Homo sapiens: one gene and its partners. The protein of the gene in region 1 purifies or fractionates together with the protein of each later gene. This does not show direct contact. Each region holds a gene or a part of one and is shown in the gene's direction. Other genes may lie near its edges. The genes, in order: SLC19A3, ABCB1, GOLGA5, TAMM41, CMTM4, SCAMP2 and ATP11C.

What was found.
Region 2: the proteins of SLC19A3 (region 1) and ABCB1 purify together in Homo sapiens (affinity purification with mass spectrometry; one large-scale study listed by BioGRID and IntAct). This does not show direct contact.
Region 3: the proteins of SLC19A3 (region 1) and GOLGA5 purify together in Homo sapiens (affinity purification with mass spectrometry; one large-scale study listed by BioGRID and IntAct). This does not show direct contact.
Region 4: the proteins of SLC19A3 (region 1) and TAMM41 purify together in Homo sapiens (affinity purification with mass spectrometry; one large-scale study listed by BioGRID and IntAct). This does not show direct contact.
Region 5: the proteins of SLC19A3 (region 1) and CMTM4 purify together in Homo sapiens (affinity purification with mass spectrometry; one large-scale study listed by BioGRID and IntAct). This does not show direct contact.
Region 6: the proteins of SLC19A3 (region 1) and SCAMP2 purify together in Homo sapiens (affinity purification with mass spectrometry; one large-scale study listed by BioGRID and IntAct). This does not show direct contact.
Region 7: the proteins of SLC19A3 (region 1) and ATP11C purify together in Homo sapiens (affinity purification with mass spectrometry; one large-scale study listed by BioGRID and IntAct). This does not show direct contact.

The regions. Positions count from the first base shown.
Region 1 is NC_000002.12:227,694,029-227,697,528, reverse strand, and holds part of SLC19A3 (thiamine transporter 2), read left to right. Parts: intron 1-1,447; coding exon 1,448-1,640; intron 1,641-3,500. UniProt on the Homo sapiens protein: Mediates high affinity thiamine uptake, probably via a proton anti-port mechanism. Has no folate transport activity. Mediates H(+)-dependent pyridoxine transport.
Region 2 is NC_000007.14:87,590,885-87,594,384, reverse strand, and holds part of ABCB1 (ATP-dependent translocase ABCB1), read left to right. Parts: intron 1-3,500. UniProt on the Homo sapiens protein: Translocates drugs and phospholipids across the membrane. Catalyzes the flop of phospholipids from the cytoplasmic to the exoplasmic leaflet of the apical membrane.
Region 3 is NC_000014.9:92,793,131-92,797,104, forward strand, and holds the start of GOLGA5 (golgin subfamily A member 5), read left to right. Parts: upstream 1-1,174; 5' UTR 1,175-1,326; exon of another isoform or gene 1,327-1,863; intron 1,864-3,974. UniProt on the Homo sapiens protein: Involved in maintaining Golgi structure. Stimulates the formation of Golgi stacks and ribbons. Involved in intra-Golgi retrograde transport.
Region 4 is NC_000003.12:11,822,886-11,826,385, reverse strand, and holds part of TAMM41 (phosphatidate cytidylyltransferase, mitochondrial isoform a precursor), read left to right. Parts: intron 1-3,500. UniProt on the Homo sapiens protein: Catalyzes the conversion of phosphatidic acid (PA) to CDP-diacylglycerol (CDP-DAG), an essential intermediate in the synthesis of phosphatidylglycerol, cardiolipin and phosphatidylinositol.
Region 5 is NC_000016.10:66,630,744-66,634,243, reverse strand, and holds part of CMTM4 (CKLF-like MARVEL transmembrane domain-containing protein 4), read left to right. Parts: intron 1-3,500. UniProt on the Homo sapiens protein: Acts as a backup for CMTM6 to regulate plasma membrane expression of PD-L1/CD274, an immune inhibitory ligand critical for immune tolerance to self and antitumor immunity. May protect PD-L1/CD274 from being polyubiquitinated and targeted for degradation.
Region 6 is NC_000015.10:74,852,866-74,856,365, reverse strand, and holds part of SCAMP2 (secretory carrier-associated membrane protein 2), read left to right. Parts: intron 1-1,716; coding exon 1,717-1,785; intron 1,786-2,246; coding exon 2,247-2,345; intron 2,346-2,869; coding exon of another isoform or gene 2,870-2,998; intron 2,999-3,500. UniProt on the Homo sapiens protein: Functions in post-Golgi recycling pathways. Acts as a recycling carrier to the cell surface.
Region 7 is NC_000023.11:139,727,054-139,730,553, reverse strand, and holds part of ATP11C (phospholipid-transporting ATPase IG), read left to right. Parts: intron 1-1,591; coding exon of another isoform or gene 1,592-1,654; 3' UTR 1,655-3,500. UniProt on the Homo sapiens protein: Catalytic component of a P4-ATPase flippase complex which catalyzes the hydrolysis of ATP coupled to the transport of aminophospholipids, phosphatidylserines (PS) and phosphatidylethanolamines (PE), from the outer to the inner leaflet of the plasma membrane.

The DNA.
Region 1 (3,500 bases):
ACACCAACAACTTTCAAAAGCAGCTTTCTCATGGTATTTAAATGAGGGCTGGAAGAGATGTGAAAGTCAGGATTTTAATATCAGAGGGAAATCTGTCTTTGAAGTTTAATCTACAATAAATGTTTATTTCCTAGTAACTGGAAGCTTAAATGTCAAATGAGACTTTGAAGATATTTTTTAGGAAGTGAGAATTCGCCCCACCCTCATTTACAAAAAGTTTTAGAAAACCCGTGTGACCTCTATTTTATTATTATCTCCCTTTTGGGAAGCTTCAGTTTAACTCCTGGAAACCAGGACTGTGCCAGAATTGCTTCACTGAAATTATTGCTCCTACATTCCAAATCCATGGGGGGAAAAATAGTTATTTTTTTTTTCCTCTGTGGTCATGATCACATGTGGGAAAGTTAGTCATATGTCAATGTAGTAATTTGAAATCTAAATACCTTTTGTTTATTTATTTATTTTAGACAGAGTCTTACTCTGTCACCCAGGCTGGATTGCAGTGGCATGATTTCAGCTCATTGCAAACTCTGCCTCCAGGGTTCAAGTGATTCTCCTGCCTCAGCCTCCTGAGTAGCTGGGATTGCAGGTGCCCGCCACCATGCTGGCTAATTTTTGTATTTTTAGTAGAGCTGGAGTTTCACCATGTTGGCCAGGCTGGTCTCTAACTCCTGACCTCAAGTGATCCACCCCCTTCAGCCTCCCAAAGTGCTGGGATTACAGGAGTGCGCCACTGTCCCCAGCCCTAAATACCTTTTACCTTTGTTAAAGAGAACCACACAAAAGTGCTAACCCTAATTACTGTCAATTATTTCAATTTCTTGAACTCTGTAAGTCTATATAGATATTTTCACCCAAAGCTTCTCAAGTAAATTATGTCAGATGTTGAAGACTTTAGAGTGGAGATTGGAAATAAGACTAAGATTACTAAAGGTTCATAATAAAGACTAAAACTGGGTAGGGCAAGAAAAAAGACTAAAACTTTCAATGTAACACATCTGATACTCATCACTGAAAAAGACTTACAGCAAAAACTGAGAAAAGAAAGGCAAATAGAGAGGCCAGTGTATTCCCAGAGAATTTATTTCATCCTTTTCCATCCCTGCATGTTGTACTGAGTGACTAGGTTAATGTATCATTTCTCCTTACACTGCTGTGGTTAGGAACCTTTCTGGCCCCTCTGCAGAATACAGTGTCTGGCGTGTAGTTGATGCTAATTAAAAGTATGGTGACTAAGTGACCGAAAGAATAGCAAGTGAAAAGAAAAGCCAAAAGAAGACACGCTTGAGAAAAGGATAGATCCACATTCAGGTCGATCACACAATTTTGTGAAAGCAATATATTTATCTTTCAGAATTACCCGAGACCTGGGTTTTTAAGAGAGGGTGTTGATATTTTCCTGCATGCAAAGTCATTATGTTTGATTGCCTTCAATGTTTTTTTTCAGGGGCTGTGGCTGCCTTTGCAGTGGGTTATGTGAAAGTCAACTGGGACCTTCTGGGAGAGCTGGCTCTGGTGGTCTTCTCAGTTGTCAATGCCGGTTCTTTATTTCTCATGCATTACACAGCCAATATCTGGGCGTGCTATGCTGGCTATTTGATATTCAAGTCCAGCTATATGCTTCTTATAACCATAGCAGTGTAAGTTTTACCAACCACTCCTAAAACTGAACTGTATTCCTCTCTCTTCTGTCTTTCTAAACTTTCTCTAAGAACTTCAGAAGGATTTTAGTCAATTGCAATATTAAATGTTGACTGCTTTATATTAAATTAGACACAACTAAGCCAACTTTTCATTTAACTATTTGCTCTCTGAATATTGCTACAATATACCTTAAGTCATCAAGGGAAAAAACTCTGTAGGTTTATAGACCAAAAGCAGTGATACATTGTCAGGTTTTTCTTTTTGTTTTATTTTGTTTGAGAGATGGCCTGGCTCTCTTGCCCAGGCTGGAGAGCAGTGGTGCGATCACGATCAGGACTCAATGCAGCCTTGACTTCCCAGGCTCAGGTGAGTCCCCAACCTCAACCTCCTGAGTAGCTGGGATGACAAGCATGTGCCACCATGCCTAGCTAATTTTTCGTATTTTGTAGAGATGGGGTTTCACCATGTTGCTCAGGCTGGTCCCAAACTCCTGGGCTCAAGCGATCCACCTGCCCTGGCTTCCCAAAGTGCTGGAATTACAGGTGTGAGCCACTACATCTGGCATCATTGTCAGGATTTGATTTGTTTATTTCCAGCAACTTTCTACATAAAGTGTGATGTGATCTGCTTTCAAATGGTTAGGTTTAGATTTCATTCCTACTTTCATTTGTTTGCTTGAGAAATTCTAAGCACATACTTTTATGACACAAAAGATTCTCAGGAAAGTTATTAAAAAGTTGGATACTAAAAAAAGTAGATGCAAAGATAACAAGAAACCTTTAGCTGCAGTCGTGTATGGAACCAAGCAGTTTTTCTTTTCTTTTGTTCTTTTTGAGACAGGGTCTCACCCAGGCAGGAGTGCAGTGGTGCAATCATAGCACACCACAATCTTGATCTCCTGGGCTCAAGCAGTCCTCCCACCTCAGCCTCCTGAGTAGCTGAAACTACTGGTGCACACCACCATGCCTGGCTAAATTTTTAATTTTCATTTTTGTAGAGACAGAGTGTCACTGTGTTCCCCAGGCTGGTCTCAAACTCCTGGGCTCAAGTAATCCTCTGGCCTCAGCTTCCCAAAGTGGTAGGATTACAGGTGTGAGCCACCACGCCAGATCTAGTTTTCAGTCATTTTCTAAAAATAATTTCTGGGATTTAGAATTTCCCGTCATTTTTGCTTCTACTTTTTTCTCAGAGATCTCTTTAAGAAAATGATTAAAAAACCATTCGGTTTCATATAAAAGTACAGCTAAAGCTGACTACAGAAAATATGCTTTGCTATTAACCAAAAAAAATGAGAAACATTTGAATTTCAAATTGCATGAAAGAAGTGGAGACAAAAGCTTCATCAAGTTTTGCTTTCAATTTGTGAAGAATGTTTTATAAACAATTTACAACACAGAAATATGAGCACTCTGGGAAAAAATCATCAAAGGAAAAAACAATTAGTTGGTATGTTTATTTTCTTCATGGAAATGTCTTAATTTAATCAGAATCATGTATCTTAGGTTGCTTTTTTTTAAATGTGAAGATTTTGTTAAAGTAGGATTATATCATTTCTTTGCATTAAAAAAAAATATTCACGGCTGGGCACAGTGGCTCCCGCCTGTAATCCCAGCACTTTGGGAGGCCAAAGCAGGTGGATCACCTGAGGTCAGGAGTTCGAGACCAGCCTGGCCAATATGATTAAACCCCGTATCTACTAAAAATACAAAAATTAGCTGGGCATGGTGGTGAGAACCTGTAATCCCTGCTACTGGGGAGGCTGAGGCAGGAGAATCCCTTGAACCTGGGAGGCAGAGGTTGCACATTCTCATCAGCATTTATTGCTTGTTTTTTGGATAAAAGCCATTCAAATTGAA
Region 2 (3,500 bases), on another chromosome or scaffold:
GTAGTAATAGCACACATAAAGCACTGTGTGCCAAGCATTGTCCTAAGTATTTCATATTTAATCTCATTTAATCCTTACAACTCCTTTTGAGAAAGATACTATTATTATTCCAGTTTTACACATGAAGAAACTGGAGCCAGACATGTTCACTTGTCTGAGGATGTACAATGGGGCCAGGATAGAGAGAATATATTCTAAGTCTCTTGATGAAGTACTCTACTACTTAGATAGATTTTCCTCACATCTTTTTCCTGAAAAGTCAACATAGAAAACATTGAATGTAACTTCAATATAAAACTTATAAACACAAGAACATAATAAAAGTTTAACAATATATTGGTGATGTCACTGGCATTGCTTATTAATAATAGTTTTCAGTGAAGACAAAAAACATTGTGTGTTCAGGGTTTCCAAGAAGCCCAGCTTCAGTGATTCAGACTAGGAGGACCCAGAGGATTTATGGCTAATGTTTATTACAACAAAAGGATACAAGGCAAAATCAGCCATGGCAAAAGGCGAGTGGGGAGAAGTCCAGAAGAAACCAGGTGCAAGCTCCTAGAGTTCTCTCCTAATGGAGTCACAGGGCACACTGAATTTCCCCAAGCAATGAGTTAAGACAGCACTTGTAGAATGCTGTTTATCAGAGAAGCTCATTAGAGACTCAGTGCCCAAGGATTTTATTAGGAACTGATCATGTAGGCACCTACCCAGCATGCACCAAAATTTCAGACTCATAGAAGGAAGGCAGAACTGCAGAATGAAGAATCATATTGTTTGTACAGATAGTTTGGCCATACTTATCAGTTAGAATGGTGGTAATCCTCCCCAAATCCAAGTTCCAGCCAAGGGCCAACCTTTGTATACAGGCCTTTCTAAACATGGCAGCCTCAGAGCTGCTGTGTTAGCTCTTGTCTGCACACAATGTCTGTTAATTTATTTCCACTATGAGATTTTTTAGCAATCTTAAAAAAGTGATGAAAGAAGTAAGGAATAGATTCAAAATTCTATACTAGCCTTTTAAATTTATATCAGACCTTGTTTCAACATTTACAGAAACACAAAAGTAGAATAAAATCTAAAGCAAGTGAGGAAATGTGACACATAGAGCTGGGCTGTAATTTCTACACAAAATGAACTTCTTAGAGATTATACACTCTTGGTCAGGTGCTGTGGCTCACGCCTGTAATCCCAGAACTTTGGAAGGCTAAGGTGGGCAGATCACTAGAGCCCTGAAGTTCAAGACCAGCCTGGGCAACATGACAAAACCCTGTCTATGTGAAAAGTACAAAAATTAGCTGGGCATGGTGGCACATGCCTGTAGTCTCAGCTACTCGGGAGGCTGAGGTGGGAGGATCACTTGAACCCAGGAGGTGGAGATGCAGTGAGCCAAGATTGTGCTACTGCACTCTAGCCTGGGTGACAGAGTGAGACACTGTCTCAAAAAAAAAAAAAAAAAGATTATATATTCTTGCAAGAATTGTGCACTGTAGATTGAACTCTGAGCTTTCTATTATGTGTGTCTTAGGGAAACATTAATTTTTTTCTAAATAGATAATACCTAACAATGTTAAGTGTTTCCCTTGTACCAGGCATTTGTTAAATACCCTATGTTTATTGTGTGACATAATCTTCATATAGGGACATAAGTACCTGCAATTTAGGAACTTGTGTTATTCTTGTGTTCCAGATGAAGAACTTGACTTAGAGAAGTTAAGTAATGCATTCAAAATCACAGGGTCACATAGCTACTAAGCAGGGTAGACTCAGATATGCCCAGTTGCTTTTAACAACTGTAATCATTTATGACTGGTTAAACTGTTATCTCTCTGGAATTGAAGAGTTCTTTATTGCTGCTATCTTTTGATCTTATGACCATCTCATCATCAAAGACTACGCCACCTGGCTCAGTATCCTCCCTTTCCACTTTGGTGCTCCAACCAACTTGGGTGACTTTTATGGTTATATGGATAATCACTCCTTGAGCTTCACAGCTGCAATAATCATAAAAACCTACCTGTGTCTGAATCTGTTTCCTCCTCCTTCTTTCCAGTTATGACAGAGTTTTAGTCTTAAGACTAATCATTCATACTTTGGCTCCTATCTCCTCTGCCTTCTCAGGGACCTTACATCATTATTACCACTCATTCTCTTCTGTATCTTCCATCTTTCCCTCTCAACTGGATCTGTCCCATTGGCATTGACACATCAAGGCACTGATGCCCTTCATGGAGCCACCCCTGCCAGCTCCCTTCACACACAAAAGTGGCCTTTGCGTTCTGTCTTGATTTCGCCATTGACTTAGTTCTCAACCTATTGAAGTTTGGCTCCTGTTCCTGTCTCTCTCTACATTCAGTGGACATTTTAAAATTCTATCTTGATCTCTCAGCAGCACTTAGACTTTCTCCTATATTTTTTGTATTTGCTTCTGTTATGTCACGGTTTGCTGATTTTCCTCCAGCTCTTTGGCTTTTTCTTGTGCTGCCCTCGCCTGTAAAGTTAAGTTCCTCAACCCCTTATCACAGGAGTCAGAGATGATGTGGACATTCCTATAGTTCCACAAAGCCATTTTCAAATTTTTTTTATTCTCATGCAAACTCCTTTGTCATTTGAGTTTCATTCTGCATAATTATACTATCTTCTATCTATTTTCGGTGGTATCCTCGAAGTATACCCCCACCCCCATTCCTTGAGGACTTTGGCATTTGATTGCTTCTACTTCATTCACCTTATGTTCCTGTTATTCTTCTGAGTATTTTGGTGACCTTACAAATAAGTCTCAACATTCTCTGACTGCTTCAGTTCCAACAACGACGCTCCATAAATTACATGAGTACCTTAGTAAATTGCACGTGTGGACAGGATCTTGGGCTTATTGTCTGGGTGAGCTTTCCTCTATGAAGGTATAAACACACACACACGTGTATCAGTCTTTGACCACAACCTGTGATTCCTTCCAGCTCTGCCCTGCCTCTTTATCATCCCTCTTTTGACATTGTGTATTCATTTCCTATTGCTGCTGTAGGAAAATAGCACTCACTTAGTGGCTTAAAACAACACAAGTTTATTACCTTACTGTTCTGGAATCGAAGTTTTACTGGGCTAAAGTCAAGGTATCAGCAGGATTGCATTTCTTCTGGAGGCTCTGTTTCCTTCCCTTTTTCAGCTTCTAGAGGACACTTGCATTTCTAGACTCACAGGCCCTTCCTTGCATCACTCCAACCTCTTACTTCAATCATCACATCTCCTACTGACTCCAGGCCCCCTCCTCCCTCTTATAAGCACCCTTGTAATTACATTTGCTCTCCTAGATAATCCAGGGTAATCCCCTATCTGGAGATCTTTTAAATCTGCAAAGTCCCTTTTATCATGTAAAGAAATATATTCACAGGTTCCTGGGATTAGGATTTGGACAGGCTGTGGGGGGAGAATTATTCTGTCTACCACACCTGGTCAAGACTTTACTCTCTCAACTGCTCTTTCATCTCCTAGTATCCCTCCTT
Region 3 (3,974 bases), on another chromosome or scaffold:
AGGAACAACAATACCACCTACCAGAGAATAATAGTACCTTCCTTATGCATGTGAGATTAAAATGAAGTGAGGCACATGCAATGCTTAACACAGTATTCTACACTTAATAAAAGGTTTGATAAATGTTAGATGCCATTATTATGATTACCACCTCCTGGTGCTGCTGAAAATTTTTCTCTTCACCGTACTGGGCTAAACCTCACCTGAGAGCAATAAAAGCAGGAGCTGTAATTACTTCCAATATTTAATTTGGAGACAATAAAGCTTTGAGTCTACGAGGAATAGGCTTTGGAGTAATGTGGACTCCTTATTAGGACAGATGATCTTAGACAAGTTATTTAAACTGTTTGAACCTTACTTTCCTCAATTCAAAGATTTGAGACTTGGAACTGTGTTGTAGGCTTGTCATTAGGGCCAAGTTAGCCCAATCCTGTACACATAGTGGGTGCTGAGTATTTGAATTAGTGAATGTGGATTTTAGACTTATTTCAGATAGTCAATGAACTGTATGCATAACATAACCACAATACTGCCTTTTCCATCCTTTGGGTCTCAGCTCAAATATCATCTTCTCAGAGAGACCTTCCCTGACCACCTGATTTAAAGTACCTCCCGTGCCTCCAGTCACTTTTCCCCGTTTTCTTGTCGTTACAACTCTGGTAACGCCCTGAAATTGTCTTGTCCATTCACTGTTACGTAATATCTGTCTCTGCCACTAGAAAGTAAGCGCCATGCAATCCGGATCATGTTTTCTTATTTCCACCTTCTGCCGTGGACCTCTGGCATTCTCGTCTGTAAAACTTAGGGGAGATGGTGAGGAAAGGGAGAAACACGAGGTCTAGCCGGTCCACCCGGGTCTCAAGCCCCGCCCAACTCAGGCCTCGCGTTCCTTCCAGGCTGGGCACCGCCTTTGGTCACCCACGTGGCCCGCAGTAAGGCCCCGCCCTTTGTGGGTGTGGCCTTTCACGGCGTGCGGGCCGTCCACCGGCGGCGAGCCACGTCACACGCACGCAGGCCATGCGCCGCGCCTGTTCTCGCCGCGGGCGGAAAAGGGGCGTGGCCATGCGCGAGGACCCCGTAGCCGCCAGCGCCACCGCCTGAGTCGCCTGCAGGTGGCTGTTCGCGTCTCCCTGCCGTGCAGGCAGCTCGAAAGCCACTCTGTTGTGGGGTCCTCGCTTCCCTTCCACGTCTCCCGGAAGCGGTAGCAGGGCCCCGGCGGGTCGGGGAGGAGGTTTACTCAGCTTGGGCCCCCTCCGGGCCAGCCGCCGAGGGGGCGCGGCCCAGGACGGCGGCTAGGCCGTAGTGCAGCCTCTCCGGAGTCCTCAGGTGAGGCGGAGGCGAGGGCCCACTGGACGAGACGGGGGTGTTAACGGTCCTAGGAGCGGGGGCGCAGTCCCTTCAGTGGAGACCCTGGTCTCTCCGTTTTCTTTCGGGTCGCGCTCATCTTCGCCCTGTTAGGGGCTGAGGAGGGTAACTGGAGAGACTCCTTGGGCTTCAGCCGACGTCGTTTACTGCCCTCCTCTGTCTTCCTTTCTCCTGACCCCTGCCTGGCCTGGCCGTTCTTCCCGCACGGAACGAGATGGGTGGGGAGCAGAGTGGGGGTCTCTGCTCGCTTACCTGAGATTCCCCAAACTGACAGACCCCAGGGCTCTACGGACTGGGCCTGACCGACTGACCTCCAGCCTCCCTCCCTCTGTGCTGACGCCTGGCCTTCGAAGCAGGCCCTGCCGCAGCCCTTTGCAGACCCATCCCCATCCCACGCACTCTCTGCCCCTGGGCAGTGTCTGGGGAATTGACGGGTGCCTCTGAAGTCCTTCGTGTCTTTGAGATGTTTGCCCAGGGCCCATCTAAGTATTTAATTAGGTAATCGACATTAATTGCAACATTAGTAGCAGTTGCATGGTATGTTTTAAAGCCCAATTAATTTTGAAATGGGAGGCAAGATATAAAGAATTAATGAGCGTGTTTTGATTTTTTATTACTTTTTTTGTAGAGACAGGGTCTTGCCATGTTGCCCAGGCTGGTCTCAAACTCCTGGCCTCAAGTGGTCCTCCCCGCTCGGCCTCCCAGTGTGTTGGGATTACAGGCGTGAGCCACAGTGCCTGGCCTGTATGGTGTTCTGTATGTTACAGAGCATTTCATCTCCATTTTCATTTGATTTTTTATAAACTCCGAAATACATAGGCATTTAATAGTCACATGTGTAAAGAACAGATTTAAAGGATGAGTTTCTTCTTGAGGTTTTTTAGATTTTGAGCTGTATGGTATAGGGAGGCAAGGGTTAAAAGTAGGTTTGGCACTAGGGTAACTTAGACTTGAGTATCTGAGCTGCTGTCTAAACTCTGGGATCTTTCTAAACCCTTTCCACATTTGCTTTAAAAAAAGGATATTGCTGTTTACCACATAACGTGGCTGTGAAAATTACATGTGATAAAAGATACATGTGTACCTGTGTACAGCATCAGTCATATAAAAATTCCACTCAGCAGTATTTGTGAGTGCCTACTGTGTGCTAGACTCTGGGAATTCATTGGTGAGCAAAACAGACATAATCTTTATCCAGCCACTGCCCCACTTTCCCCAAGAACAAGAAGCATGTTAAAAAAATACGTAATTATAAAACATGAAGGACTGTGAAGCAAAAGAATAGGGTATGTACAGATAATGATTGACCTAACTTAGCTGGAAAGGAGAACTCTGAAGCAAATGACATTTGAGTGAAGACCAAGAACAAGAAAGTTAACCATGAAAGAGTTCTTGGCAAAAGGAACAACGTGCACATTCTAGAAATGGTTGTGGACTTTATTATAGAGCCCTTCTGTATCTATATCTTCATCATTACTTTGATGTATTGTGGCACACAATAAGTACTCAAATATATGTATGGAATGAGTGGTTATGCAATTTTGGTTTTTATTCTGGACTTAGCTTAATGTGCACATGGTAGGTATTGAGTATGTGAATTATTGAACATGTACTTTAGATAAATTATGTGCACACCTAAATTATATGTAATAGTGCTGCAGTTTAACATTAAGATAGCTTTTGTATTTAACGGAAACGTTTTTTCAAGTTTTAGCACTTTAAAACAAACTTCAGTGAATTTTATTTTTATTTGGTTGTACTGGAGTTTTGCCATATTGGTTATTTGCTGTTTGGATGTTGTTTTAATTTGCTGCTGTAGCAAAGTACCACAGATTGATTGGCTGGGCCAACAGAAATTTATTTTCTCTCAGTTCTGAAGACTTGAAGTCCAAGATCAAGGTATTGGCAGAGTTGGTTTCTTCTGAGGCGTACTTCTTTTGCTTGCAGATGTCTGCCTTCTCCCTCTGTCCTTTCTGTATGCCTGTTTGTGTTGAAATTTCCTCCTCTTAGAAGGACATGCCAATTATATTTGATTAGGGGCCACCCTGACGACTCATTTTAATTATCCTTTTAGAGATCCTATCTCCAAAAACAGTCACATTCTGAGGTCTGGGGGTTAGGACTTAAATAAAGGAATTTGGAGGGATGCAGTTCAGCCCATAACAGATGCTTTTGCTACATTAAGATTTGCCCGGCCGGGCGCGGTGGCTCACGCCTGTAATCCCCGCACTTTGGGAGGCCGAGGCGGGTGGATCATGAGGTCAGGAGATCGAGACCATCCCGGCTAACAAGGTGAAACCCCGTCTCTACTAGAAATACAAAAAATTAGCCGGGCGCGGTGGCGGGTGCCTGTAGTCCCAGCTACTCGGGAGGCTGAGGCAGGAGAGTGGCGTGAACCCGGGAAGCGGAGCTTGCAGTGAGCCGAGATTGCGCCACTGCAGTCCGCAGTCCGGCCTGGGCGACAGAGCGAGACTCCGTCTCAAAAAAAAAAAAAAAAAAAAAAGATTTGCCCTTCTTTGAAATAGTAATAATAAAAACAGTAATTTATTATTACTTTGAAATAGTAATAATAAATAATAAAAATAGAAATAATAATAAAAACAGTAGTG
Region 4 (3,500 bases), on another chromosome or scaffold:
GGCTAATTTCGTTTGTGTAGCGACAGGGGCTCGCTGTGTGCTTCTGCTGGTCTCGAATTCCTGAGCTCAAACGATCCTCCCGCCTCGGCCTCCCCGAGTGCTGGGATTATAGGTGTGGGCCACTGCGCCTGGCTGCCTCCAGCATCTTATCTCATTAATAGTCAGTGTTCAGAAAATGATTGCTGTTATTATTATTTTTATGTATTATTGTTGGTCAGATGGGTTTTCCTCAGGTTGAGAAACTGTTATTTGCTCAATCATCCAGTGATTGATGGACACTTATATTAGCTCCATTTCTCACTGTTTTATTAGCAACACTGCTGTGAATCACTTTGTACAGATTACTTTCGTTGGGAAAGGGGCAAAGGAGGCACTGACTTCCTTGGATGTGTTCTCCAAAGTGGAATTATGTTGTCAGCTATAAAAATTATAAAACTTGTTACATATTGACAAACAATGCCTGTCAAAATTTGCAGGGTGCTGTGGCTCACACCTGTAATCCCAACTTCCAGGCTGCAGTGAACTATGATCACACCACTGCACTCCAGCCTGGGCAACAGAGCCAGACCCTGTTTCTTAAATTAAAAAAAAAAAAAATTAGCTGAGTACTTAGATCAGATGGATTGAAACATGACAGCCCCATTTCATCTGGCCGGTTAAGGTCCTCATGGAATGAAAAACACTTTCGGGCACTCTCCTATGAGAGAGAGAATGGGTTTCTTTAATTGCCAGATTGTCTGAACACAGCCTCAGCTACTTCTAGGAATAAGACGAAGCAGTGAGGAAGTTGCCAGTTGAGTGATTCTTGGGGAAAAAAATTAGCATTCAGTGCCAGCTCTCTAAAGTGTGGATTCTGGATTCTGGTAGAAGCCAGTAAAGAAACGTTTTCTCTGGAGTGGAAGCTAGTAAGATTTATTCTGTGGTGATGAAGCCATCTGAAACCTTACAAGCAGTGTGGTTGTATCAGCATATGGGAGCTGACTGCCTCAGGACTTTGGAAGCCTGCTTCTCTGTGCCTCAGCCGGAACTCAGGTTACTCAGTAGTCATTTGCTAATTTCTGAGAACGCAGCACTCCTGAAGGGATAGAAAGCATGAACAATACCCAAACTTTTTAGACTAGTACTGTGTGTCAGGTATTGTAACATTCATTCAGTCCCTGAAATGTACAAACTAGTTATTGCTCCCCTTTTTCATTTGAGGATACTGATGCCCAGATAAGTTAAGTGGCTTGCCCTGGGTCACATAGCTTGTAAATGCCGAGCTAGCATTTGAACCCAGGCAGTCTTCTTCCTGGAATGCTTGCTCTTAACACTTCACTGTTCTATGAAAGGTCTTTGGTGGTGGGCGTCACTCCTGGTTCACACTTAGGTCACTCCTTCCCCAGGACCCACTGGGTCACACCTCCCCTCCCCACACCCACCCCAGTGGGCCTCAGTTCTGGCTTATCATGGAGGCCTTCCCTGACTGCTACTGCAACTCCACCACTCCCTATGTCTTTCCCTGTTTGTGTTTTCCCCATAGCACTTTCCACAGTCGGCTACACTGTATCTTATTGTTGGTTGGCTGGCTGATCTTTGGTCTTTGTTCCACCACTGAGGATGTGGAGGGAAGGAATTGTTGTCTTGTTTTGCTCCTTCTGTTTGGATGCTTCCAATAGTATGTGACATGTACTAGGTGCTCAGTAAATATTTGATGAGTGGATTATACTGCTTCCTTCCTGAACCAATATAGTGAACCTGAGTCCTCCCTATTACTTCCTACTTTTGTATTTTCTAATGTATACAAAAGGAAGGCCAGGCATGGTGGCTTACGCCTGTAATCCCAGCACTTTGGGAGGTGGAGGCGGATGGATCACTCAAGGTCAGGAGTTCGAGACCAACCTGGCCAACATGATGAAACCCCATCTCTACTAAAAATACAGAAATTAGCCGGGCGGGCGAAGGTTGCAGTGAGCTGAGATGGTGCCACTGCACTCCAGCCTGACAACAGAGCGAGACTTTGTCACAAAAAAAAAAAAAAAAAAAAAATTAGCCAGGCATGGTGGCACACACCTGTAGTCCCAGCTACTAGGGAGGCTGAGGCAGGAGAATAGCTTGAACCCAGGAAGCAGAGGTTGCAGTGAGCTGAGATCATGCCACTGCACTCTAGCCTGGGTGACAGAGTGAGACTCTGTCTAAAAAAAAAATATTTACAAATCATGCATCTGATAAGGGACTAGTATCCAGAATATATAAAGAATTTTTAAAATACAATGGATAGGCCGGGCGCAGTGGCTCACGCCTGTAATCCCAACACTTTGGGAGGCCAAGGCTGGTAGATCACTTGAGGTCAGGGGTTCCAGACCAGTCTGGCCAACATGGTGAAACCCTGTCTCTATTGAAAATACAAAAAATTAGTTGGATGTGGTGGTGTGCACCTGTAATCCCAGTTACTTGGGAAGCTGAGGCAGGAGACTAGCTTGACCCCAGGATTCGGAGGTTGCAGTGAGCCGAGATCATGCCACTGCACTCCAGCCTGGCGACCGAGTAAGACTCTGTCTCAAAAAAAAAAAAAAAGCCGGGCATGGTGGTACACACCTGACCTGTAGTCCCAGCTACTAGGGAGGCTGAGGCAGGAGAACAGCTTGAACCCAGGAAGCAGAGGTTGCAGTGAGCTGAGATCATGCCACTGCACTCTAGCCTGGGTGACAGAGTGAGACTCTGTCTAAAAAAAAAAAAAAAAAAAGTAAAAAGGCAGCTAACAAAATGGAAGAAAATGTTTACAAATCATGCATCTGATAAGGGACTAGTATCCAGAATATATAAAGAATTTTTAAAACACAATGGAAAGGCCGGGCGCAGTGGCTCACGCCTGTAATCCCAACACTTTGGGAGGCCAAGGCTGGTGGATCACTTGAGGTCAGGGGTTCAAGACCAGTCTGGCCAACATGGTGAAACCCTGTCTCTACTGAAAATACAAAAAATTAGTTGGACGTGGTGGTGTGCACCTGTAATCCCAGTTACTTGGGAAGCTGAGGCAGGAGAATAGCTTGACCCCAGGAGGCGGAGGTTGCAGTGAGCCAAGATCATGCCACTGCACTCCAGCCTGGGCAACAGAGCAGGACTCTGTCTCAAAAAAAAAAAAAAAAAAACAACAACAACAACAAAACAATGAAAAGACAATCCAGTTTAAAAACAAGAGAAGGATTTGAATAGCCATTTCTTCAGAAAAGGTATTCAAATGGCCAGTAAGCACATGAAAAGTTGTTAAACATCATAGGTATTAGGGAAATGGAAACATCAATACAAATCACAGAGACGCCATTCTATACCTGCTACAATGGCTGTGATAAAAAAGAAAGGCAAGAACAAGTGTTGAGAATGTGGAGAAATTGGGACCCTCATACATTGCTGATTAGATTGTAAAGTGGTACAGCTGCTTTGGAAAAAAGCCTGGCAGTTCCTCCAAATGTTAAACATAGCTACCATATGACCCAGCAGTTCTACTCCTATATATCTAC
Region 5 (3,500 bases), on another chromosome or scaffold:
GGTTTCAAACACCTGACCTCAGGTGATCCACCCACCTCAGCCTCCCAAAGTGCTGGGATTACAGGTGTGAGCCACCACACCCAGCCCAGAAATACCTATTTAGTGAGCTTTCTGGAATTCTGCTTTTTCTATTTTAATCATGAAAGATTTTCCACTTGTTGACTACCACACTACCATGTCACCGGTCATGTTGAGGTGCATCTCTCCCCAGGGAAGTTGATACTCGTTCTTTTCCTCTGGGTGGTGGTGGCCTGGGCCTGTGGTTGGGTGTTGGTGATGTGGTCACTTGAGAACACGATCCTGTTCTTTGGGATCCGTTCTAGACTTTCCACTCTTTTGGAGCAGATAAAGGCTGTGTGTTTGCCCAACAAAAGGGCATATACCTTACATGAACTTGAGGAGATGGTACCTTTTTTTTTTTTTTTTGAGATGGGGTCTTGCTCTGTCGCCCAGGCTGGAGTGCAGTGGTGCGATCTCGGCTCACTGCAACCTTTGCCTCCCGGGTTCAAGTGATTTTCCTGTCTCAGCCTCCTGAGTAGCTGGGATTACAGGCATGTGCCACCGTGCCCAGCTAATTTTTGTATTTTTAATAGAGACGAGGTTTCGCCACGTTGGCCAGACTGTTCTCCAACTCCTGATCTTAGGTGATCTGCCCACCTCAGCCTCCCAAAGTGCTGAGGTTACAGGCGTGAGCCACTGCACCCTGCCAAGATGGTATCTATTAAAGGCAGCTCATGTCCAGTGTTCTCTGAGAGGGGTGAAAAAGTGAGCTCCTCACGGCCGATCTCAGCTCATCAACTCGCTACAGAAGGGTTGGCCTTGGCTGTGTTGTGTTTCTGTAACAAGGTGGTGGGAGTATTGGGAGTATTTTTGTCTCCAGCAGAGCCAGCCTGATGGTTAAAATAGGGTGTGATTGGTATAGATTTAAAAACACAGGTCATTCCAGGAGCCCAGGTTGACATAAATATGGATGAGAAATGATAAATAAGGAGGACAGTGCATAATTTTCTACAAGCATAATTTGATGGAATTTGAATGATTCTGTTAATGTCAAGTTTTTGGTTTGGGTTTATTTTTGGATGGATTGTGGGACTTTGATATATATATATATTTATATATATATATTTATATATATATATATTTATATATATATATTTTGAAACGGAGTTTCGCTCTTGTTGCCCAGGCTGGAATGCAGTGGCACAATCTTGGCTCAACGCAACCTCCACCTCCCAGGTTCAAACGATTCTCCTGCCTCAGCCTCCCGAGTAGCTGGGATTACAGGCATGTGCCACCACACCCGGCTAATTTTTTTGTATTTTTAGTAGAGAGGGGGTTTCTCCATGTTGGTCAGACTGGTCTTGGACTCCCAACCTCAGGTGACCTGCCCGCCTCAGCCTCCCAAAGTGCTGGGATTACAGGCGTGACCCACCGTGCCTGGCGATATTTGTTTTTCTCTGTGTCCTAGGAGCTCATACACTCACATGTTCCACCCCTGTTTACTTTGATTAGTGCCACGGGGCTCCTCCTTTCCTCCCCTTCCCTTCTGGGATGTGGCGCTATCTAAAAGGCGTGTCTGATCCTCCCCCATCCCAAAAGCCTGCCAGTGGCTCCCACTCAACTGGCCCCAGAGCCCAGGGCCAGCTCAGCCCCACTTCCCAGAAGAGGAGGTCTGCACTTGCCTTCTCTACTTCCCCCTCTCCTAATCTCACTTTTCTAATCTCTTATTGTCAAATTCTGAAAAAATTATGAAAGTAAATATGGAGTTTAATATACAGCCACCACCTGGGTCAATAAATAGGAGATTGTCAACACCCCAAAAGCTTCCCATGTGTATTTTCCAGCTAAACACACCCCCTGCCCCTTCCCCCAGTCCACCATCCTGACTATGTGGTGGTCTTCCGCAATTCATCTTCAGCCCACTCCAGTCTGGCAGCATTGAAAGTCCCCTGGTCAGGAGCCTGGGACGGGGCCTCCGTGTTCCTAGATCCTCTGGTTGCTCTTGGGTTCTCACCCCACTCAACATCCTGGTGGTGTCTGCTATGGGGCACTCTGTCCTTCCTGCCATACTCTCTCACCTTGCATCCTGGGCCCCCACACTGTCCTGTTTTTCTTCTTCCGCTTTGGTCACCCTTTCTTAGTGGGCTCTGTGGCCCTGGAGGCCTCTTAGGCCTCTATCTCAGAACCCAGGCTGGGTGCTGTGGTGGGTTGAGAACAGTTGGCAGTTACCCACAGGGGCCACTGGCTGAGCCCTGAGCCCTAGGGCGTGACTCGTCTTGTGTTTTTTTATTTTATTTTATTTTATTTTATTTTTTTATTGATCATTCTTGGGTGTTTCTCGCAGAGGGGGATTTGGCAGGGTCATAGGACAATAGTGGAGGGAAGGTCAGCAGATACACAAGTGAACAAAGGTCTCTGGTTTTCCTACGCAGAGGACCCTGTGGCCTTCCGCAGTGTTTGTGTCCCTGGGTACTTGAGATTAGGGAGTGGTGATGACTCTTAAGGAGCATGTTGCCTTCAAGCATCTGTTTAACAAAGCACATCTTGCACCGCCCTTAATCCATTTAACCCTGAGTGGACACAGCACATGTTTCAGAGAGCACAGGGTTGGGGGTAAGGTCATAGATCAACAGGATCCCAAGGCAGAAGAATTTTTCTTAGTACAGAACAAAATGAAAAGTCTCCCAAGTCTACTTCTTTCTACACAGACACAGCAACCATCCGATTTCTCAGTCTTTTCCCCACCTTTCCCCCTTTTCTATTCCACAACACTGCCATTGTCATCATGGCCCGTTCTCAATGAGCTGTTGGGTACACCTCCCTGACGGGGTGGTGGCCGGGCAGAGGGGCTCCTCACTTCCCAGTAGGGGCGGCCGGGCAGAGGCGCCCCTCACCTCCCGGACGGGGCGGCTGGCCGGGCGGGGGCTGACCCCCCACCTCCCTCCCGGACCGGGCGGCTGGCCGGGCGGGGGGCTGACCCCCCACCTCCCTCCTGGACGGGGCGGCTGGCCGGGCGGGGGGCTGACCCCCCACCTCCCTCCCGGACAGGGCGGCTGGCCGGGCGGGGGCTGACCCCCACCTCCCTCCCGGACGGGGTGGCTGCCGGGCAGAGACGCTCCTCACTTCCCAGATGGGGTGGCTGCTGGGTGGAGGGGCTCCTCACTTCTCAGATGGGGTGGCCGCCGGGCGGAGGGGCTCCTCACTTCTCAGATGGGGCGGCCGCCGGGCGGAGGGTCTCCTCACTTCTCAGACGGGGCAGCTGGGCAGAGACGCTCCTCACCTCCCAGATGGGGTCGCGGCCAGGCAGAGGCGCTCCTCACATCCCAGACGGGGCGGCGGGGCAGAGGCGCTCCCCACATCTCAGACGATGGGCGGCCGGGCAGAGACGCTCCTCACTTCCTAGATGGGATGGCGGCCGGGCAGAGATGCTCCTCACTTTCCAGACTGGGCAGCCAGGCAGAGGGGCTCCTCACATCCCAGACGATGGGCGGCCGGGCAGA
Region 6 (3,500 bases), on another chromosome or scaffold:
AAGGCGGAGGCTGCAGTGAGTGGAGATCATGCCACTGCACTTCAGCCTGGGTGACAGAGCGTGACTCTGTCTTAAAAAAAAAAAAAAAAAAAAAAAAAAAAGAACTGGCTCTGCAGAGGCTTCCAGTGGAGGTGAGGCTGGGCCTGAAGTTTGGGAGCATCTGGTTTAATAATTAGGGGTGTGGGGTGAGGTGTGGAACCCAAGCGGTGTCTCCACAGGCAGGAACAGCCCTGAATTTGGCCACCCTCAGGGCTGTTCCTCATGGAGCCCAGGCATGGCTGTGAAGCTGGACCTGAGCCCTGCATCTGTTACTAGGAAGGGGAGGGTGTGGAGGAGCTCTTCTTGGGGCAGGGCAGGGTGAAGACAACTGTTCCAGGCCAGCAGGGGCACAGTAAAGAGGATGGCAGAGCCCCATGCAGAGATCAGATGGGAAAGGGAGACAAGGTTGTGTTCTGAGGACATTCTTGGATTTTATGAAAAGACTTTAAAAAACCCCCGAAACCCAGAAACATTTTCTTGAATTTTCACCTCAGCTCATCATATCTCTGCTCTTAGCAAGTGTGCCCGATTTAATAAAATCAGTACTGGCAGCCAGCAGCATGTTTTTGTTCTAGAAACTTAGACTACTTTTTTTTTTTTTTTTTTTTTTGAGATGGAGTTTTGCTCTTGTTGCCCAGGCTGGAGAGCAATGGCACAATCTGGGCTCACTGCAACCTCTGCCTCCCGGGTTCAAGTGATTCTCCTGCCTCAGTCTCCGGAGTAGCTGGGATTACAGGCATGCGCCACCACACCTGGCTAATTTTATATTTTTAGTAGAGACGGGGTTTCTCCATGTTGGTCAGGCTGGTCTTGAGCTCCCGACCTCAGGTGATCCACCCGCCTCAGCCTCCCAAAGTGCTGGGATTACAGGCATGAGCTACTGCACCCGGCTACCTTAGACTGTCTTTTACAAAATAAGAGGAATGGCCAGGCATGGTGGCTCACGCCTGTAATCCCAGCACTTCGGGAGGCCGAGACAGGCAGATCACGAGGTCAAGAGATTGAGACCATCCTGGCCAACATGGTGAAACCCTGTCTCTACTAAAAATACAAAAATTAGCCGGGTATGGTGGCGGCCGCCTGTAGTCCCAGCTACTCAGGAGGCTGAGGCAGGAGAATCGCTTCAACCCAGGAGGCGAAGGTTGCAGTGAGCCAAGATTGCGCCACTGCACTCCAGCCTGGGTGACAGAGCAAGACTCTGTCTCGAAAAAATAAAAAAATATAAAAAAAGAGGAATAAATGAATAATAAGTAAAACAGTACAGAAAGGTTATAAAGTCAATAGTAAGTCTCTACCCTCACCACCCCATTCACTTGCCCCTCAGCACCCCACCCCTCAAAAAAAAAAAAAAACCCACTCCCTAGAGGTAAATACTATGAACCATTTTGAATCTGTATAGGGCACCAACAGGAGCCTGTGTGGTGTGTACTCTCAAGCTTCTGGGTAAAGCTTGCTCTGGGTCTCTTCTGGGCTGAACCTTTTCCAGGAAGGGGGAAGGGAGAAGGGACCGCAGCTGTGGTGTGGCAGAGGCAGGCACAGGACCCTTCCAGAGAGGCTTCTCAGGGTCCCGGGAGGGTGATCAGCTGCCCTGCTTCAGTCAGGCGTCACCGGCTCGCCTGCCGGCCCCTGGCCCGGATTTTCTCCACTGTGTCTAAGGGCTTTTTTTCACCTTCTCAGGATCCCTCTGTGACCCAGCTGACCAACGCCCCGCAGGGCGGCCTGGCGGAATTCAACCCCTTCTCAGAGGTTGGTGAGCAGGCCCTCTTTCCAAGTCCCATGGCCCTCTAGGGTGGTGCTGGGGTGTCCGGGGCAGGGATCCTTGGCAAGGACAGAAGCAGCTCTGAGAAGCGGCAGTCCTCAAAGGGACAGTCCTAACATGAACCCGGGAGGCAGGGTAAGGATGGCAAAGCCACCAAACGCTCTGTAAAATTCTCCCCTTGGGATCTGTGACCGGGGCCCCTCCCCAAGGAGGTCAGGGCAGTGCCCAAGTGTGCTGGACCCAGCGAGCCCAGGGGTGCCGGGTTAGGGATCAGATGGCCTGAACCTGAGGCTTGTTGGCTGGGAAGCCACAGGGGAAGGCCCAGTGCAGGCCCCGAGGGAGTCCCCTCACAGGCAGGGGCACATCACTCATCCTGCTGTGGGTTTGCCCCCTCGTCACCAGCTAATGGAGTCCCACTCAATTCTGTCTTTTGATTTGTTCCATGTAGACAAATGCAGCGACAACAGTTCCTGTCACCCAACTCCCTGGGTCCTCACAGCCAGCGGTTCTCCAGCCATCAGTGGAACCAACCCAGCCGACCCCCCAGGTAGTGCTGACAAAGAACTCTGGCCTTTTCTCTCCAGTGAGGGAATCATCCAGACCAGTAGCTGAGCCCTGAGGCTGGGGGCAAGCAGAGAGCTTTCAGCCTTGGCCCCCTAAGGGCCCTCTTGCTAATTTGTTCGGAGCTGGTCACCTACAAGTAGAGGGGCTGCTCTGCCAATTAATATCCTTACTCCCTCCATCCCACCCACCACCACCACTGAGAAATAAGCTCTACTCACCAGGCCGGGCTCCTCGGTGCCTCCAGAGAGGGCATTTGTCCCTGTTGTACCCCTCCAGGTCCTCCTCGGGCCTTTGGCTTGTTCTCTCTTCCTTGGGGCCCAGAATCTCTCTCTTTTTTTTAACTTCATTAATTCTCACCTTCCTTCCTGTCTTCCTTTGTCCCTTCACCAAATACTGTGAATCTTGCCTGCTTTGTGCCTGGTGCTCCACTGCGCCGCCTCACTGCCCTCCCGCTGCACCCCTCGCTGCCCCTATGAGCGTGACCCATGGTGGAGTTGTGTGTTGCAGCTCCTGCTTAGACAGGCCAGCAAGTTCCCGCCTGCCCAATTCCTGGCAGTGAGCGAGCTCTCAGAGAGGCAGATGCTCCTAGGAGGAGAAAGTATTCTCAGAGACAGCTACATGCGAAAGCTTCCGAAGGTAGGCCTAATGTAGATGAGCAGGAGGAAGGGCAGGGCACCCGGAGCCTGCCCCACACCCCTCCCAGGCCCCAGAGCCCTGTGGAGGTGAGGCAGGCCTTACATGCGGAGTTGCCTTTCTGTGCAGCTGGGTGGTGGGCTGTAGGGAGCTGGGTCCTTCTCAGCTGGCGTCACAGACTTGGAGGAGGTCAAGACCCCCAGCGTGGCACAGCGGGGTCAGTTCTGCTCCTGCTTCCGCCCCCAGTGCCTGAAACTTGGCTCTCCACGTCAGCCTTAGGTCTTTGAAGAGCTTTTGGAGAGGTTGGTGTGTGTATACATGTGTGTGTGTACACATGTGCCTGGTTTGTCATCCTGTGAAATGACCAGTTTGAGATCTCTCCCTAAAAAGGACTGTAGTCTCATCCTTCAGGAGGAACCTGGCCCAAATGGCAGCAGCTGCCAGCAGGTGCAGGGCCCCGGGGCCAGGTCTGTTCAGCCTCACATACAGTCAGTCCCTTACTGTT
Region 7 (3,500 bases), on another chromosome or scaffold:
ATTGACTCCATTGGTTCTTCTGTCTTCCTGGAGTTCATCGCAGTCTACATCTGCACTGTTATTTTAGAAGCAGACTCATTTTGCCACAGTTAGCATCTTTTTACCCATTTTTGAACAACTTACCTGAGTATGTTTTCCCTTAGTAATGAATCTGCTTCACAAGTAACCTTCAAGGTCTTTGACCCCTTTGTCCCAGATTGCCTCGTTCTAAGCTGTGTGATGCATTTTAGCTATATTGTTTCTGGCTAATTTTGTATCCCCCTGGATTGCTCTCTTTAGCTTGGTCTGTGGTTTGGGGGACTGGGCTGGATAGAAGACACTGCTGTTGCTTTTGGCCTCTCCAGGGCCTTATCTCCTACAATGTCTAACATAGAACTGAGGAAGTATTTTTTAAAAACAATTGTCTTATTTTTAATGTAGTTATTTCTTCCAGGAATAGATTTTCATGTGGCATTATTTCTCCTCCAAAGACAATAATTAGCAGCTAGTTTAGGCATCTAGTTTGTTCCTTGGTTGGTAAGGAAACTACCTAACTCCTCAATGTGAGTTACATTCTCAGTATGAATGGCAACCTTATTTTGGTTAGAGTCACCATGACCCTGCAGAGCTACCTGAAAACCTACTAGTGGTTCTGGAGAATGTGGAACATAAATAGAAATGGAAGGTATTCTAATGAGCTTCTAGTCCAGCCATGGCAAAGGAGGTGTCCCAGAATGGGAAGAAAATAGCATACTACTTAAGACCTTCCACTACTCAGGTTCAAAAAGATTGAGTTTTAGAGTGGAGAATCAGGCTCCCTGTTTTGACATATGACTTCCATTTCTTAACATACTTGACTTACACTTAATGATCAGTTTGTCTGTCATGCACCATCCTGATCATAGCATTTGATGATGTTTAGAGGACAGAGAAGAATCTACAGATTTGATAGGGAAATATCCGTGGTTTCTCTTCCAAAAAGATGAAGCATAAGAAAAAACAGAAGAATCAATCGACTCATAGATACATGATCTACCAAAAGGAAAATTAACTTCCATATTGTAGGGGGGAAATATGCTTCTTTCAGTAAAAAGGAAGAATATTTTCACAATAATCTTCCAAAGCTGAATATATCTTCAGACTTCCTCTGTCAAAATTAACACATCAAGAAAAACAGCAATCTAATCATTCATCAAACATTTCCTGAGTATCTGCTGTGTGCCAGACACTATTACTAGCTGCTGGAGATAGAAGGTAAATAAAATGTTCCTGTTTTCAAGGACCTCCCAGCCTAGAGGAGAAGGGATCACAGCAAGCTAAACCTCTGCTATGGTAAATAATCCCAGAGGTAGAAAGTATTAGGAGAACCCTGGAACAATCCAAAAGCAAAAAGCAAGCCTGAATCTATTCAGCTGACAAATGAAGAAAGGATTAAAATCTGGTTATAGTGTCACTCTTTTTTTCCCCTGCATGTGAATAAAACTTGGCACTTTGTTAAGACAGTTGCTTTACTCTCATAACAAAATTTACTACTTATTTCTGAAAATGCTTAACAGATGGTTTCACATTATTAAAATAAGCCTTTTAAATCTGTATATTTTACATTTTTCAGAATCCGAATCTTGAACTGCCTATGTTATTGTCCTACAAGCATACTGACAGTGGTTACAGCTAAAAAAGAAAGCATGAAGAAACAACTACAAAAAGTTATCATCTCAGGATACTTGATACGCAACACACTAAACCACTCTCATGTCTAGAGTTCACAATAAATGTTCATTAAAATACCAAATGATTCTCTTAAGCATTTACCATTATTGTAAGTAGCCTTTATGGCCAAAGCTGTAAGTTAAGAATTATATGAAAGTTGAAAGCAAGAATACTTAGAATTCTGGCTTTAGTTAGAGTAATATAACTCAAATGGGTGCTCTTTTAACCCATGAACTTTGTGAATGGATTTAAATACAATAGTATGAAGTAGAAGTTATGCAATGAGAATGAATAGATTTTGCTAATACTACTTTTTTTGCCTGGCAGAAGAAATAGACTATTTGGATCACATTTCTCATTCCTCCTAAATGATCATCTTAATTTTTTTTCCCAAGTACATAAGGAATACTTGAAAATACAGAATAACTAAATAGTATCAATGCATCAGACAGAATAGTTAATCCCTTCTGTTTACCCATGTGCTACTAATGTCTTGGTAGAATATTCTTGCCAAAAAAATACCTTGAACGCTTATGTGGAAAGTGTTAACTTACGGGTATTTTTGTGGGAATAGAAAAAAATTGTTTATTTTTTATTCTTCTGAATTAAACCCCACTTATGGGTGTAAGCCTACTAGACTTGAAAATAAAGTATAAAACATTTCCAATCACTTAGTAGCCCCTCAAAGTAGTTAGAAAATAAACAGATTTTTCCAGTGTTGATTTTACTGGGATCTGCAGTAAGGTGGTTTAAACCATAGTTATATAAAAATAAAGGTCATTCTGAATATCAGCCTTTTATAATTTTATGTGAAGAGGAAGAAATATAGCTTATTTTAAACTTTTGACGGTTTTTATTTGAAAGAGATTGCATTTATGCATATATGCAGTGCTTTTTCTTAAACTTGGCCAATTTGGAAAGGGGGAAGGAGCCACCCCAAAACGGTGGTTCAGCTTGTAGAGCCATGACTCTGTGAAGATGAATGTTGTCTCTTAACTTGGACAGGGAAATGGTCTAACTCTAAACCATGTAACTGACCTTAGTAAAGTCCTTGACTAACTGAACTAGAAGGAAGGTTTAGCCTTCTAATTAGTTCACTTGAAACATAAATGTGAAATGTCTTCATTCAATGTTAAACACATACTTTTTTGGATATAAATGACCATATTTATTTGACTGCTAGTTTTTTTGTTTTTTTTTTGTCTTTCTGGCATGCCTGTACTATTATTAATGTTTATATTGTACCTTGATTTGGAAAAGTATTGGAGTTAATCTGTATTATATTTATATAGTCCATATGGCACATTTGATTCTTCCACATATATTTTGTGTTAATGTTTAGGTATGATTTTTTTCTAAATTCTAGAAAAGAACATAATTTCAGTTATCAGAAGCCATTCCATCATTATAGACCCTTTTTCATTATTTCATTTGCTCTCATATATCAGTATTATTTTTGAGCATTTTGTTACATGTCATTCACAACTTACCTAAGTGTGCTGTGTTCTGGTAGCCCGTATTTGAGGTAAGCTGCTGAAAACAAAAGTCTCTATATTCTTTGCCTATTCCAAAGAGCTAAAAAAGTCTAACCCAGGAAAGCTTTTGATATTTTGTGTTTGTTTTCTTGTTCTTATGGTTGTTGTTGCTGTATTATGATTGCTGTTTTACATAAAATCTATGGGAACTGTGAATACAGACAAGAGAGCCACAGTAGAGAGGCTTGTTTAATGCAGTACCATTGGAGAGTTAACAGAATAATCTAGTAGAAAAATAACTGGTTGCATGTAAAATTCCTTCCAGCCAGAAAGAAA